Regions from separate parts of the Homo sapiens genome. Here regions 2 and 3 are each linked to region 1. Evidence: fine-mapped expression QTL. A gene starts in region 1. Each other region holds a variant in brackets. All regions are shown on one strand. Distances are from middle to middle. Region 1 holds the start of COL13A1 (collagen type XIII alpha 1 chain). Region 2 overlaps COL13A1 (collagen type XIII alpha 1 chain). Region 3 has its middle 31 kb from the start of COL13A1.

Region 1 (5,219 bases):
CTTGAAGAACAGTAGAGGCTGTATGCCTGGGGCATTTTTTCTTCATTTTTGTCTAGGTGTGTAACCAAGACCACAGTTTAAAATCAAAGTCTTTGGGTTAGCATTGGAGGCCCTCTTTCTTCTTACTGCAAACAAGAAAATCTATTTCCTGGTGTTTTTCTTGAGGCATCTGAATCCCCCCCCTTTCTTCTGGGAGCCCTGAAGCACCTTTTGTGGTCTTTACATGTTTTGTGGATTTTCGCTATTCTGCCTTTTGTGGCGGTTTTATGTGAACATGACTTGTCTTCCTTAATCAACTGTTTTTAAAGCTCCTGGAAGGCACTCTTTTCACCTCAGTGTCCCCAGGTCCTGGCCCCCACCTATGAAGAAAGAAGGGTTCAAGATAAGCCACATGAGGCTGTAACTTGTGCCTGGGGTAGACAATGCTCTACCTGAAAGAAAAATCTCCCAGGGCAAGAATTCTAAGCAGTGTGGGAAGAAGAAGAGGGATACCTGGGGATCAGGCCCCTCAACACAAGCTAACTCCTGCTGCTCACAAGCTGCTACTCTCAGCTGTCAGGTAGGGAAAAAATGGAGGTTAACTGTGATCCATTTGCTTTCTCTGGGATGGAAACTTCTTCCTGTTTCACAACTGGGAGCCCAGAGCTAGCTGTGTCTGAGATGGCCCTAGCAGCCATGAATTCCAAAGAAGGAGCCGATGCCCTTTATTGAGTGCCTGCCCTGTGCCAGCACTGTGTTCACTGCTTTACATACATTACCTCATTCAGTCCTTCCAGACGGGTAGATACTTTTATTATCAGCCCATCTTACAAATGAGAAAACTGAGCCTCCGAGATGTTCAGCAGCTTCCACATTGACAAAAGGGAGATTTACACCCAGGTTTCTCTGACTCCAGAGTCCCCCTGGAAGCTCCAGGGTTTGCAATGCTGGGGCCAGGTCAGGCTAGCGCAACACCCTCCTCTTTCAGTTCCCAATCACAAGGATGCTCCAGCTCCAAACTGTTTAGATTTCACTGCCTGAGCATTCCTGAGGGCCTCCAAAGTCCTGAAAGGGAAAAGATCAGTTTGCAGAATAAGGAGGGAATGAAACTAACTCCCCACCTCAGTTCCTCCATTCAGACTAGCCTGGGAGGGGAGTGGGGGAAGTCCAAAGTCCCTGAATTTCCTGGCCTGTACCTCCCAGTGCAGAAACTCTCCAACGCCCCCTGGTGTTCTTCAATACCATCCAAGTCTCCCAAGGATTCATTCCTCTGTAGAGTGGACTGGGACATCCCATCACAGGGATGGAGAAAACAGAGTGCCCTTGCCACTGAAGCCATCAGGAGAATCCTAGAACTGGAACTGGAACCCAGAGCTCCTGGCCACGGGCTCTTTCAGCAGCATCGCCTTCTATTCCTGTTGTCCTCCATAGTGGCTGACTGGCCCAGCAGTCAATGTTACCTTTATTACATATGATCTCAGTACTTACTATGTTACAAGTCCAATATGCACTATTAAGTGTGCCACACTTTATTAGAAGTGCAGTGACACTGTATTATATATCAAGTTCCATCAGGTCAATATAGAAAATGGGAAGTTTGTACTGGCATGCCTTGTTATTTTGAAATGGAATCCCAGCACCACTGCTGCCCCCACCTCCACTGCATATTTGAAAACCCAGTCTACTCTCCTCTGCCCGCTGTTCCAGGAAGACAGGCTTTCTCCCAAAAACTCAGTCCCACCACCTCATTCACAGGAATGTCAACAGGCACAAGGAGATAAAGTCTCTTGGGATACAAATGCTACTTAATGTGGGGGGTGGAGGAGGTGACAAGAGAAGAGAGAAAACTACCAAATGCCCTTCAGGCCACCAGTTTTTCTCTAGTGGAATATAGGAAATGACAACAGGAGAGAGCCTGGTTAGCCCTAAGCCTCCCGCAGGGATGGAACCTGAGTTTGTGTAGGAATTGCTCACCTTTGATGACTGGGATGATTGAGGCAGGCTGGTCTCACCACACAGGGATAGATGGCATGGGTCTCAGATTAATGGCAGGCAAGAAGGGGAGATGTCAGGACTGGCAGGCGGCCCCAATGAGCCACCTCTCAGATACCTGGAATAAGATCTCCTCCGTTTTCAGTGTCTCATACTACCTCAGGTCTTGGTCCTGAGAGGAAGGGCTGCCAGCTCTGCTGCCCCCTGGAGGGCTGACTTTTCACCCCAGAGTAAAGATGTGGTTGGCCGCCCGGCACTGGAGGAGCTGCAGATCTCAGGAGGTACAGAGCCCCCGGGGAGTCGGTTGTCGGGGGAGAAGGAAGGGGAAAGAGGTTGGGGGCTTGGGAGTAGAGGAGCGGTGGCTGAAGGGATCAGGTAGTCCTGATCAGGACGTGGAGATCCACCCACAAGCCCTGACAATAACTCAGTCGAGTTCCTGGAGGGTCTCAAGGGCTGGGAAAGGTGGAGTGGTGCCTGCCCCAACGCGTCCATGGAAGGTGGTGCCCGCCTCACCGCCTCCGTGGAAGGCCAAACGAGCCCTCGGTGTGAATCCGGAGAAAGAGAGGGAAGTGCAGCGCCAGCTCCACTCCACACCCCCTTCCTGCCTATAAATAACCCCAAGTGTCACTTCAAAGAGGACGGGGAGCGCGGCAGAGGGGCTCCCGGGCCGGCGGGCTGGGGCCGCCGGACCTGCTCACCACGCCCCCCACCCTGGGCGAGTTTGCATAAATAAACAAATCCAAGCCGTCGGCCCCGCGGGAGGTGGAGGAGGAGTGACGAGGAGGAGGAGGAGGAGGGAGGGGGGAGGGAGAGATTAGTTTGGGAAGTAGCACGGATTGCTCATCCGATCCGTGCCGCCGCAGGGAGTGTGTCAAGTTACAGAGGCGCCGGAATCGGCCCCTGCGCTCCTCGCCAGCCGCCACGACCCACCTCTGCCCATGGGGCCCTCCGTGTGCGCCCCTTCGCCCGGGGACTGAAACTGACTGGCCCGGGAGACACGAGGCGCCCAGAAGGACTGACAGCGCGGCACCAACTGCTCTGCAGACACTTGAAGGGAAAGACTGGGCGGAGAGAAGGAGAGCCGGTCAGATTCCCCTAACTTTCCTGGACTTGGAACGTTCTTCGAAATAACTTTTTTCTCACCTAGGTGTACCCCAATTACCGCTGGTTGTGCTTTTTCGGCACTTCCTCTCCTACTGCTAATTTTTCCGTCCTCTTTGCCGGGAGCAGCGGAAAGGGACGTTTTCCAGCGATACAAGCCCTTTCCCCCTGCCCCGCAGTTTGGATAGAGCCTTTTGGCAGCGGCTGTCGCCTTTATTTATTCTATTTATTTATTTATTGGTTCTCAAGACGCGAGAGGATGGTAGCGGAGCGCACCCACAAAGCGGCAGCCACCGGTGCCCGCGGCCCTGGGGAGTTGGGCGCGCCCGGGACGGTGGCTCTGGTGGCGGCGCGGGCGGAGCGCGGCGCACGGCTGCCGAGTCCAGGGTCGTGCGGGCTGCTGACGCTGGCCCTCTGCTCGCTGGCACTCAGCCTGCTCGCCCACTTTCGGACGGCCGAGCTGCAGGCCCGGGTGCTGCGCCTGGAAGCGGAGCGCGGGGAGCAGCAAATGGAGACGGCTATTTTGGGACGAGTCAATCAACTGCTGGACGAGGTCTGTGCTCTTTGTTGCTGGCTTTTATCCCTCCCCGCGGCGCCCCCTCGCGCAGCCTCCAGACTGTTCAGCCGGTGTCCGCGGGCGCTCGCTCTCTGCGAGCCCCAGGTTCGCGCGAGTTGCCTGCGGGAGGGGTCGGGGACACGGACAGACGCTGCCCTACCAGGGATTCGGAGGACCTGGTGGGCAAGAGCATGACCCAGCGACTCCCGCCTCGGGCAAGCGCCCCCGGCTTCCAGCGCTGGGAGCGCCCTGGGCACGCCGGGCAGGTGGAGGAAGGCTGGGCGCGCGGAGGCTCGCGGAGGCGGGCAAGCTCCACTCCTCCCTTTCGGGACCCGGCCAGGGTGGTGTGACAGCCGCCCCGCGCCCGCGCAGCGGCAAGCGCGCCCAGAGGCCCAGGCCGAGGCTTACTGAGCCCCCATGGCCCTCCCCCTCCACCCCTTAAGGACCCGGGGGGTGCGGGGAGAGGGGACAGTTCTTGCAGGGGGTGGTGCCCTGGTCTCTGCTCACTGGCCCAGGCCGCTAGGGTCCAAGTGTGGGTCGCCTGGCTCTGCTGTCCTTGGCCACAAATTAGTCCACACCTTCTTTTTCCTAAACCAGGTTTCTTATTTTTCTGGAGAAAGGATGCTTTCTTCCATTCTCCAAATTTTTTTGATCCAAGTAGATTAAACACTACTAGCGTGTCAGGTAGCTATGGCAATCTTCGGAATACAGGAAAAGGCTGTCCCCTCCCCAGGAAGGAGGGACATGCAGCCTCTTTGTGCCACCAGAGGAAAGGCTGGGCCTTGACAGGGTGAGGCTTGATGATCTGTGGGAATCTGGACAGCACAGGGGATTCAGGGCCCAGATAGAGAGGAGGACAGGCAGGTGGGGGCCGCAGCAGTCTGGGAAGAGGTCCTGGAGCAGGTCCTGGCCATGGAAGGTCCTGGCCATGGAAGGTTTCCATGGGGAAGAAATGGGAGAGGATATCTTACTTAGCTGGAGGGAGTGTGCAGCAGTAAAGATCACGGTGGTAGAGGCCAGCAACCCTGGGTTTTTATCCCCACTCTGCTACTTGGAAGCTTGGGACAAACGCTCCAACCCCTCTGAACATGCGAAACAGTGCTGATGTAGCAAACACTGGAGCACAGCTCTAACTGTGGTGGGTGGGGTGCTGTGAGCATTTTGGCAAGATGTACCTATTCCCTATAGCCAGGCTCTTCTCAGCTGCCCCTGCCAGGCTGGCACCTGCTGGAGCAGTTCTCCAGGGTGGCCAAGGAGGAGATTGCAGGGCCAGAGCAGAGAGAGCGGTCACAGGGCAAGCGTACTGGTGCTAGTGGTGCACCCATGACTGCTGCTGTCAGCTCATTCCCACGCCCTGCCAGGCTCCAGGGAATCCGGAGAACTCCATCGGGCCGTCCATGGTTCCCTGGGCCTGGGGTGGAGGTGCAGCATCTCTGGGCTCAGGCAGAATGAGCCCAGACTGGCTGGGTGGTGAAGAAGGTGTCAGGGCAGTGAGAGCTCCTCCAGGTATCTCGGGGGTCCTGGCTGCTGAGGGATAAGCATCTGATTTTCAGGGTTTAGCACAGCCCCTCTCTCCATGCTTTCCCCTTCC
Region 2 (5,219 bases), 34 kb after region 1:
GGCAAAGTTCCTTGGTTCAGGGCTGGGCAAGTGCTAAACAGAAGCATAGGCATCTAGTTTGGGAAATGCAAGAAAAGGAGTGACTACTCCTGAAGGGAGGAATCAGAAATGGCTGCATGGAAGAAGTGGCATTTGAAGGAATCCCTGAATGGCAAGTAAGATTTCAGTAAATGAGAATGTGCATGAGGACATTTTAAAACAATGAAACAACATAATAAAGAATAGAGACCTGAACAACTGTGTTTTTTCCACACACACCCCCACACCCCACACCCCACTCTGGGAAATGAGGAATGATCTGGAGCGGTTGTAGTAAGCTCCTGCGGAGGGATGGAGTAGGAGGTACGGCTGGAAAGAAAAGTTGGGGGTTGGGGAGGCAGACCGTGGAGGGAGTTGGACACCACCCTGAAAGCCAGCTTCTATTTGGTGGGTAGCAGGAAACCACGGAAGGTTTCTCAGAGGGATGTGATGTATCCAGCTGTGTATAGCTCAGTGTAGAGGGTGAATTAGGGGCAGGAGAGAAGCTGGGAATGGGCAGCAATGATCTCTCTAAGGCAGCAGTCCCCAGTCTTTTTGGGACCAGTGGCCAGTTTTTCCATGTATGGGGATGGGGGGATGACTTCAGGATGAAATTGTTCCACCTCAGATCAGCAGACATTAGTTCAATTCTCACAAGGAACCTGCAACCTAGATCCCTCGCATGCGCAGTCTGCAATAGGGTTTGGGGTCCTGTGAGAATCTATTGCCACCGCTGACCTCCTGCTGTGAGGCCTGGTTCTTAACAGGTCACAGTCCAGTCCAGATCTATGGCCCAGTGCTTGGGGACCCCCGCTCTAAGAGAAGACACAGAGAAGCAGAGGAAGCAGGTGAGGGGAGTAACGAGAGGGAGGTTGCAGAGGTAACATTAGCAAGTTCTAGCTACCTACTAGGTGTGGGCCAAGGAGGGGTTGAGGCAATTATGAGCCTCTGAGCCCAGGTAACTAATAATAACCATGGCATATATTCAACAGATGACCTTGGGCCTTGTGCTTTAAATACAATATCACTTACATTCTGATCAAGCACCCTATGATGTAAGGCTATGGCTATCCACATTTCAAAAATGAAGAAACTGAGGCTCAGAGATGTTCAGGGTTTGCCTGAGGTCCACGGATAAGGGACAGAGGCAGGACTTGAACCCAGGACTTTCAATGCCAGCGCCTTTGCCCTCCGGACAAGGCAGAGCAGAAGGGGGGTAGGTTGGAGAGGAAGGGTCAAAGTTCTGTTTGGGACAAGCTGGAGGTTGGGAGGTGGGGGATGCAGGATGCCTCATGGAAATGCTGAGGGCCCTGGAACAGTTCGTCCAGAGGGAGAGGGGCTAGAAGCCCATTCTGAGCTTGTGGACTTAGAGAAGAAAGACCTTACCTGTAGCCATCGTCTGGGGACAATGCTCAGGGAAGTGGCCTTACCTGTAGCCACCTGCCAGCAACACTACTCACAGAAGAGAGAGAACAGGAGTGCATCTTGCTGGAGAGCTGGCTAGAAGCACTGAGGTGGGAGACTTTCTGCCCCAGGACATGCCCAGAGCCCAGGGCCCTGTGCCCCTTCACCCAGGACTCACAATCCTGCCCGCAGCACACATGGGTGCTGTGCAGCTTGTCCCAGGCTGCTGGGGGCAGATGAGCTCCCTGCCCTAGACCCAGTGGAGGGTCCCTTGATCTTGCCACCACCTGCTCTGCCCTGAAGGAGAAGGTTCTGCCACAGTGACGCTAAAGGAATGCCAGATGCTCCTTTGGAGGAAAGGAGCAGCAAGTGGGAAGAGCCCGCGACCTCTGCTTGGGCAGTTATAAGAGACTAGAAGGTGGGACATGCCAGACCCATGGATGCAGTCCCTGGCTCTTCCTCCTGGACCCACCCAGGCTGCCCACTCCCTCGATGACTACCCCCACTCTTGTCATAACCCAGCCAGCCTCTCCCCTGTTACTCCCTGGCAAGTTCCTGTTCAGCCACTAAGGCGACTTGGGTGGCCTCTGCTGGCAGTGGCACTCTTGTCCCCACACACCTGGCCCTCTTCACTGCACCCTCCCACCAGCTCTCCAGGTTACGACTCACACTGCCCTATTCTCCTGATGAGGACCCTGAAGCTCAGAATTCTTTGCTCGAGGATACAGGGTTAGGCAGTGGCAGGGTTGGGACTGGAAATAAGCTCTGAAACATCAGAAGGCAAATGCCCCCCAGGGACCCAAGTGCTACCCTGGAGCACAGTGGGAAACCGAGGACTCGGCAGTGGCCGTGATGCTTGTCCAGGGAGCATGGAGTCAGATAAGGCTGGAGGACATTAATTAGTAATGATAACAACAACATCTATTAAGGGCTTACTCTGCGCCTGGCACTGTGATAAGCACTTTATTGCATTGTCTCATTTGATCCTCATAATTACTTTATGTGGCAGGTACTATTATTATCTCCATTTCCATAGAAGACTGGGGCCCAAAGAAGTTCTGTAACGGGGCCAAGGCCACAGAGCTAGTGTGTGTTGAAGCCAGAATTTAAGTAGTCTGAGTCTGGGCAAACCAGAGCAGCATCAGAAGCTCCCCCTGCCAACCTCTAGCTATCTCTCTCTCTCACTCCCTCACTCCCCACCAAACAGTTTTTGAGCACTGGTTCTGTGCCATGCCCCATCCTCAGGAGACAGAGAAGAGCCCACAGTCCAGGAAGGGGAAACACACGGGTAACTCAGTGGCTGCTGCAGAGACCCAGGGCTCCGGTGGGGCTAGGCGGTGCCCAGTGTGGGCTACAGTCCCAGGGCCGCATCCTCCAGGATTCCAGCCCTGGGAGGCCGGCCCCAATCAAGGCGGGGCCAAGGCAGGGACACAGGTCTAGAACCACACTGTTGGTGGCTTGTGCAGCTGGCATTTGGCCCTGAGACATCAGATCTGGGACTCAGAAGGGACCCCAGAGCTCAGCTGACTCGGCTTCCTGGTGAGAGGCCCTCCTACCATGCAAAGGGGAGCTGGCTATGCACATATAAGCAGGGGAGGGAGGGGAGGGTCAGAGCTCCAGCTGCTCATTCTCTTTCCAGCTCACTTCACAAACTCACTTCCTCCCACCCCTCCAGCCTTTGCCATCTGTCTGTGTGGCAGGTACACCAGG[C/T]AGGGCACTGTTGGAATGTCTCCAGTAGGCAAGGTGTGTGGCTGACAAGAGCTGGAGATGGGCAAACCTGGGGCACACAGAGCTACATCCTTGGCAGGCTGGCTCCTCAGCCTCATGGAGACCCTGGGGAGCCTCCTGGAGCTAGAATGAGGACCAAGTATGGGCAGAGGCTCCCTCAGTGCCTGCCTTCCTCTTTAAACCCCAACTGGGGAGGAAATGCCTGCCACAGAAAGATGCCCAGCAGGCGGTGGGGGTATAAGTGGATGCCAGCTTCCCATGTAGTTATGTGAGCTGTCACGGGGTGACCTGGCATACCATGACAGGCCGGAGGGAGGGTGGGGCGGGTCCCAACCTCCCAGGGGCAGCAGGTACTGGGCAGCTGTGCCGTGTGTTCCCGAGACCTGCCTGTTTGTGGTCATGGAGGGGTCTCCATGCCAGGGCTCCGGCTCCAGGGTGCCCAGGGCCCAAGAGCTTTGACAGCCTGAATGTCCTCTTCATTTTCCTATAGGCTTAGAACCTGGATGTGAGTCCTTCTCAACAAAGAACTTACTTTCCCTCGGGGTGTTCGGGAATCTGGACAATGAGGCCCCATCAGCATCCCATGGGGGACCTTACCAATGATCCTGGCTGGTGTCGGTTCTGATTGGTGGGTCTCTGTACGGTTCTAGTTCCAAATGCTTGACCACATCAGCTCCAGCTGTATCATTCTTTGCTCATTGGCACTCAGAGGCACTGGTGTGTCAGCCAATGCCACAGACTCCTGACGCCTTCTGAGGCCAAGAGCTACAGCCAAGCTGGGCACCTGGTTCCGGATTCATCTGTCCATTAGACAGCCTGTCCTTCCTGACAGGTGACACCCCTGCTGTTCATTAAAAGACAGCAAAAGATGCTGCCACAGAAACTGATTGGACCCTGAAGCCACCACCCACCACACAACTATTTCTAGGGATGAAGTCAGATCCAGCCTCTTCTGCGCTTACCCTGGTACATTTTCCCACTGCCTCTTCTCCTCACTTCTGTGGAGGGTGGCAGAATCCCTGGGGAGCTGGAAGTGGGCCTTGACCCTCCTGCTTCATCATCCTCCATGTTGTCCCCCTTGTGGAGTGGCCCCTTAAGGCAGTGGGATCATGTTCCCGTGGAACGGCGATCCTGCCAAATAAATAAATAAACGCAGAGAAGAAGACAGATTTCATTATCCAAAGGAAGCTGAAGCTGGGGCCAATTTCTGATGTTCATTTTAGTGGCACTGTAGTGGGGCTGGATGTTCCTCAGAGCATTTGCCCACCTTAAAAGCCCCCTGTGATGTGACGAGCCACTTTCTCAATCTTGGGAAGCTCCAAGATCTCCCAGCCCTTCTCCAGTGCTGTGGCCATCCTGGTCTTGTCACCCAGTGAACACAGGAGGCCAGGGCCCTGTGGGTTGGTCACCCCTGGACATTCCACCCACAGTGCCTTGGGCAGGGCAAGGTCTGCGCCTGCTCCAAGGCATCCAGGCAGCCCCCTCCTCAAGGGGCCACAGGAGACAGCAGCAGCCACAGCCTTGTGCCTTCCCGGTCCCACTTGTGTCAAAGCTATACAGGCCTAGACAGGATCTGGTAGGAGCCTGGGCTTTAGAGACAGAGCCTAAGGCCGAGAGAAGGCAAGGGGTTCTTCTAGGGTCACCCAGCCAATGCTGGAAACACCTAGACTAACAAAGTGGCAGGATTATCTGCTGGCTGAGTTCTGGGATCCAACTGTGTTACAATGGGCAAGTGACTTGACATCTCTGAGCTGCAGCTTTCTTACCTCTAAGATAGGGATCATGACAACCTCTACCTCCATGCTGTCCTGAGATGAAGGAGATGTATGTAAAGCACGTGGTACAGTACCTGGCATGGGGAGGAGTTTAATCAGTGGTATTGAGCTGCTGGTACTCAGCTCTCCTGAACCGCAGGCCAGGACTCTCTTGACCACCCACATTGCCCTTCCTCCTGAGCCTCTGAAACACCACTACCTTGGGGACCGGCCCTTGCCAGAGGAATTTATTCAGACAGGGGCTCCTCTAAGCTGCTTTTTGACTGCAGCAAATGCTGCTACCTCCACTAAGCC
Region 3 (5,219 bases), 31 kb before region 1:
TCCCCCAGTCTGGTCTGGCTGCCAAAGGTCTGTAAGGCAGAAACAGAGTTACACCACCACCGCCTCTCACGTCCTCAGCCTCCAGCTGGTCAGACTCTCGGGAGGGGCCTGGCAGCTCAGGTGGCTCTGCACCTTCTGTCCTTGAGCTAAGGGACCCCAACGAAGGCAGAACTGAGTCACTCTCCTCTTCTTCAGGCAAAGGCTGGGGGCTGAGGGCTCTGGCCTCGGGTTCCCTCGCTCATCTCAGAGGCTCTGAGACATAGAGCCCCTCTCAACATGGTCCTGTGAGCGTGTGCATGGAGTGTACACGTGGACATGTGTGTATGTGTGTGCATGTGAATGTATGTGTGAGGGCACACATGCATGTGTGTGAATGCGCATGTGTGTGTGTGAATGTGCACACAAGGATGTGGATGTATGCACATGAGTGCATATGGTGCATGTGTGGGCAGGGAATCTGGAGACTGGAGCTTCCAGGGCTGCTGGTGGCTGCAGCAGGCTGAGGGTGATGAGTAAGCTCACCTCCTCTTGCTCTCCTGGCATCCACTGAGTCCCAGAGTTGGGCCATGGGTGCCGTGGCGACCCAATGCATGAGAAAGACCCCATCTCTCCCTCTTGGGGTCACGTTCTGGTGAGGGGAGACAGGAATACACAAATAAACCAACAACACGATGTCAGAGAATAATGCAGGGTGAGAAGAAAATGGAATGGGGGCTGTGGTGGGCATCCTGTCCTTTTCTTCTTCCTCCTCTTCTCTGATTTTGGGAGTGCAGCATGGAATGAAAAGTGAGGTATGAGAGCAAGGGGGTGATGAAACACTTCGGCGTGGTGGGTGAGGGGTCCGGGAAGACCCACATGCTGACGCTTCCTGGCCTTGTCAGCTTGTCCCCCAAGACACTCCCCTGGGATGAAGGACAGGAAGCCCAGGTCTTGCCCCTGAGGTCTGGTGGCCCTCGCTCCTACCAGGCAGAGCTGCCATCCTTGGCTCGTCCGGAAGCCAAAGGCATCCCCACTCTTCCATTTCTGAGTCTGGTAGTTTGCTGCTGGGGAGAAAAATGAAGAAGAAGGAAAAAGGGGAAAATCCCATTTCAATTCTTTGGTCAAAGCACAAGTTTCTCTCCTCCCTTTCTTCCCTTCCTCCCTCCCTCCCTTTTTTTTCTTTTATTTTCTTCCTTTCCCCCAAGAGTAGAAAGAACCAGGGAATATAAACAAAAACGCTCTTAGAACAAATCAGGCCATCTTGTTCCCAAATCCCAGGAAACTCCTAGAAGCTGGGATCTGAGCAAAGGGACAAACGGAGCTGCAAGGCCAGTGGGGGTGGGAACTGGGCTGAGTCAGGGAAGGTCTGTGGGTTCCGCGGAGCCCCCAAAACAGCTGCCTTTTGGGGTCCAGATGTACTACCAGAAGGAAGGTCCAAGAGAGGCCAGAGGGGAGGGCTGAGGCTGCCTGGAGCTCACTGCATTCCTGCCAGGGTGAGTCACTGCCAGGACGCCCTGCTGTGCCGATTTGCAGCAACAGCCTTGGTGTCCCAGGACTCTTGGGCCCCCTCCAGATAGGTTCCTCCAACCCACAAAGAGCTCTCCTTTGCACATCGATGCCCAAAGGACTGTCATAATCACTCAGCCCATTTATGGCTTTGTTTTCTTCCAAAACGTAGCCCCCTGCAAGGAAAAAGCCCCAGCCATATCAATCATTTACTCTTTGATATAAATGAGTCATCCAGCCCTTTTCCAATGGCAGGTTTGAATGAGAAGAAGAAACAGAGCATGAGGACGCTGCATTTCACAGAGCAAGGGACCCCAAGGAAGGCATGGACCTTTCGTGGAGGTTGGGGGTTGCATGAGGGGGAAGATCCAGAAAAGGCAGAGGAGGAGCTGGACACGGCATCCTCAGACTCAGGGTGGGCCAACACCGCCCTGAATGAAACCAAGGCTTTGCAAGACCAACATAAACCAGAGCTCAGCAAGTTTATTTTCTCATGAAGAGCGAATTCTGTGAAAGACAGAGCTAAGTCTTATCAAGCACTGACTAGGTACCAGGTACCTCCCAAGTGCTGTTCCTGCAGTAAAGGAATTCTCACAACCCCCAGAGAGAGAATGGACACTCAGAACCGGTTGGAGCAAGAGGCAGCGCTGGGAGAGGGATCCGCACCTGCCGCTTCTGGAGAGCTTGCTTTCCCACCACACTACGCAGCCTCTGGAACCAGGTTGTTTGCAGCACAGGTGGGCTGATTCCAGGGTCTTATGACCCTGCAAGGCTGGAGGTTGTAAGGCTTAGAGATGGGAAATGACCTGACCAAGATCACACAGCAAAATACCAC[A/G]TGGGCACCCCACAGCCTCACTGCTGCCCAGATTGGTATAGCAAGCATGCCCTTGTCTGAGTCACTAGTGACTTGCTATTGAATGAATGAATGAACCAACAAATGAAGAAATGGGAACAGAGGCTCAGGGAGGTTCCATGTCTGACCCGAGGGCATATGTTTGGGATTCTCAGGGCAAGCCTCCTCAGAACCAGCTGTCCCAGTCCTGCCCAGCCTCTATACAGCACTTGGCTTCTTCTCCTAGCAATTCTCCTATTTTGTCACATTTGAGTTCACAGCCTCCAGAGCGACGTAGGGCCTTGACTTCCTGTTCCTGATGGGCAGGAAAGGTCATGCAGCTCATTAGTGGTGGTGAGGTTGGTGCTGTGTCCCCATCTCTAGCCAATCATACCAAACAGTGGTTGGTCTCTGTGACCCTGTCCCCACCATGCCTGGACTATGAAATCAAAGGGGTTTTCTTGACCCTAAAGGACAGTCAAGCCTGATTCAGGAAGAAGGGCTTGGACATCCACCCGTTTCTCCACGGCGTGCCTCCCCTTTCCAAGCAGCATTTTAGCGTTGTTCACCCAGACCTTCAGACTTCATGGCCAGCTCATTAAGGGATCATGGGTGCAAACAGCCTGTTGACCTCAAGGGAGAAAGTAGAGGGTTTTCCAGGAAAGGGGTGCTGGTGAGAAGATCTCCTCTCGCACTTGTGGCTCAACTTCAGTGAGTTGGATGCCCAGAGGCACTTCCTCTTCAGGGTGTTGGTGCCTCCCTGTTTCCTGAGCTATGGCAGCTCAGAGGGGCAAAGCAAAGGTTTCCAGCCTAGAGAGAGCAATGCTGCACCTTTGCCAGCCGTAGCCCATAGCTGCTTATTCCATCTCACCAAAGTGCAATCAACAAGCACTCACTGGGCACCTACTGCATGTCAGGCACTGTAGTGGGCCCCCCAGGTCCAAAGCTGGGTGAGGAACCAGACTGCCCAGGGTCAGTCTTAGGTTCCCAGCCAGGCTATCAGCATATCATCCTGATGGCAGGGACCACCTTCCATCTCTCCTAGCATCATGCACTGGGGCGGGACTGGCCTCATGGGGGAGGCCAGTATAGAAAGGATGATGGGTTAGATTGCATTTATCTCCATTGTTGAAGGGATTTCTTTCAGACATCTTGAGTTCTTCCAGCCTAAAGCCTGGAGGTTTTTTTGACTGTGGAAGTGCACAGGGAGGGGGGGGGTCTTGGAAGGAGCATGGGATCTTGGAAGGAAGAGACCAGAGAAAGAGCTTTCTCACTAGAGCACAACAGAGAGGTTAGGAGGGCAGGCTGTGGAGTCAGACAGCCTTGTCTGAAACCATGGCTTCTCATCAGGCTGTGTGGCCATAAGTGAGTTACTGAGCCTTGCTGAGTCTTAGTCTCCTCATCTGTAAAATGAGGACAATAAGAATACTTCCCTCATAGAATTGCTGTGAGCCTGAACAGAGCTAATATGTGCAAGGGCTTAGTTCAGTACCTGGCACATATTGAGGGCTGGATAAATAGGAGCTATTATTTTCCCATCGGAATAGAGGAAATATTCCGGCCCCAATGCCATCACTGGATATCAGGCCTGAAGGCACCCTCCAGAGCAGTTATTCCATTATGGCCATTCTACAAAATGGAAGACTGACGCCCAGATATGGGAAGCTGCCTGCCAAAGGTCACATGAGTTGCTAATAAAATGCAACATTAGGGTCAAAATCCCAGTCTGCTGACTCCCCAGTTGGTGCCTTTTTCACTCTCTTTTGCCCAGAGTTGGTAGAGTGGACTCAAAGAACCCCTTAAATCCATATCCCAGGCCCCCCTTCTTCTCCAGCTCCCAGCACAGTGGGGAGATTGGTGGGCTGTGCCCCCTCTTCCCCTGGTAAGAGCCTCAGAAGCTGATTCCACTCTGAGCCAAGGAAGTCTGGAGTGTGCAAAGGTGTCTCTCCAGGCCCTGAAGCCAGGAGTGACATCAGCAAGGCACAAACATCAAGGAGCAGCAGCTCCCTTCCTGGAGCTCTAGTCCCCACCTCTCCCAGCCTACCTCTGGTCCATCCCCATGGCTGTCTGTGCTAGGCTTCTGGGAGATGAAAGGAAGCCAGACATTAATGGTGACAGGTGAGGCAGTCATTGTGCCTCTGGCACCTGAGCACAAGCTTCCCTCCCAAGATGAGACTGCGGAAGCTGGCCTGAAGCCTGGGCTCTGGGCTGGGGGTCCCATCACGGGGCATTTGGCACCCAAGGGAAATGTGGGTACAGACAAAACATCCCTTCTTGCACCTGGAGTCTTGTCTCTGGCCAAACCTTTTTCCTGCTCCTTCTCCCTTGCCACCACCTCATATTTGTCAAAATTCCAGCTTGATGACATGAAACTCACACATATGGCCAAGGAGGAAGCAGAGGGAGACATGGTTATCATCAGCCTGGTCCATAGGAAGTGGAGAGTCAGCTTACTGTCTTGAGGAGCCACTAGCCCTGAGTGCTAGTGTAGGCTCTGCACAAATCCCCCATGTGGCCTAGGACAAGTCAAAGCTCAACTCTGGGATTGTCTCTGCAGCCAAAATTCATTTAGAGGCTCCTCCAGGGCCAATACTCTAGTATTCTTTAATGACGCCTGCCAGGAAGCCTCAACTGATAACCAAATACTAAGCCCTCAACCCACGCTGTGTACCTACTAACTGCTTTACCCTGGTCTTCTGGCAGGATAGGTATATCAGCTAGCTAGTGCCTCAATAATGCTGCATAACAAATGATCCCAAACTCAGTGGCTTAACACAAAAATCAGTTATTCTCAAGGAGGCTGGCTGTGGCTCAACTAATCCAGGCTGGGCTTGGCCAAGGGGCTAGGCCCTAGGCTGCTTCTTGTTGCAGGTCTCTGGGTCAGCTGGGGACGTTCTGCTCC

What was found. PIP is the estimated chance that this variant, and not a neighbour inherited with it, causes the effect. A credible set is the group of variants that fine-mapping cannot tell apart.
Region 2: its variant is the best candidate, but not a certain one, in a credible set for the expression of COL13A1 in cerebellum (GTEx, PIP 0.82).
Region 3: its variant is the best candidate, but not a certain one, in a credible set for the expression of COL13A1 in whole blood (TOPMed, PIP 0.59).

Annotation. Positions count from the first base shown.
Region 1 is chr10:69,799,093-69,804,311 of GRCh38, forward strand. It overlaps COL13A1 (collagen type XIII alpha 1 chain), which reads left to right and starts at 2,814. Exons shown (of 41, transcript NM_001368882.1): 1 at 2,814-3,625. The coding sequence starts at 3,332. LOC124902444 (a long non-coding RNA gene) reads right to left here and starts at 2,679. Exons shown (of 2, transcript XR_007062179.1): 1 at 1,954-2,679; 2 at 771-1,044.
Region 2 is chr10:69,833,502-69,838,720 of GRCh38, forward strand. All of the region lies in intron 2 of COL13A1 (collagen type XIII alpha 1 chain), which reads left to right. Among named protein-coding and RNA genes, the nearest start is that of COL13A1, 34 kb to the left of the region's middle. The variant C/T (reference allele first, on the strand shown) is at 3,133.
Region 3 is chr10:69,768,077-69,773,295 of GRCh38, forward strand. No RefSeq gene overlaps it. Among named protein-coding and RNA genes, the nearest start is that of COL13A1, 31 kb to the right of the region's middle. RefSeq lists enhancers at 1-194, 195-958, 959-1,722. The variant A/G (reference allele first, on the strand shown) is at 2,321.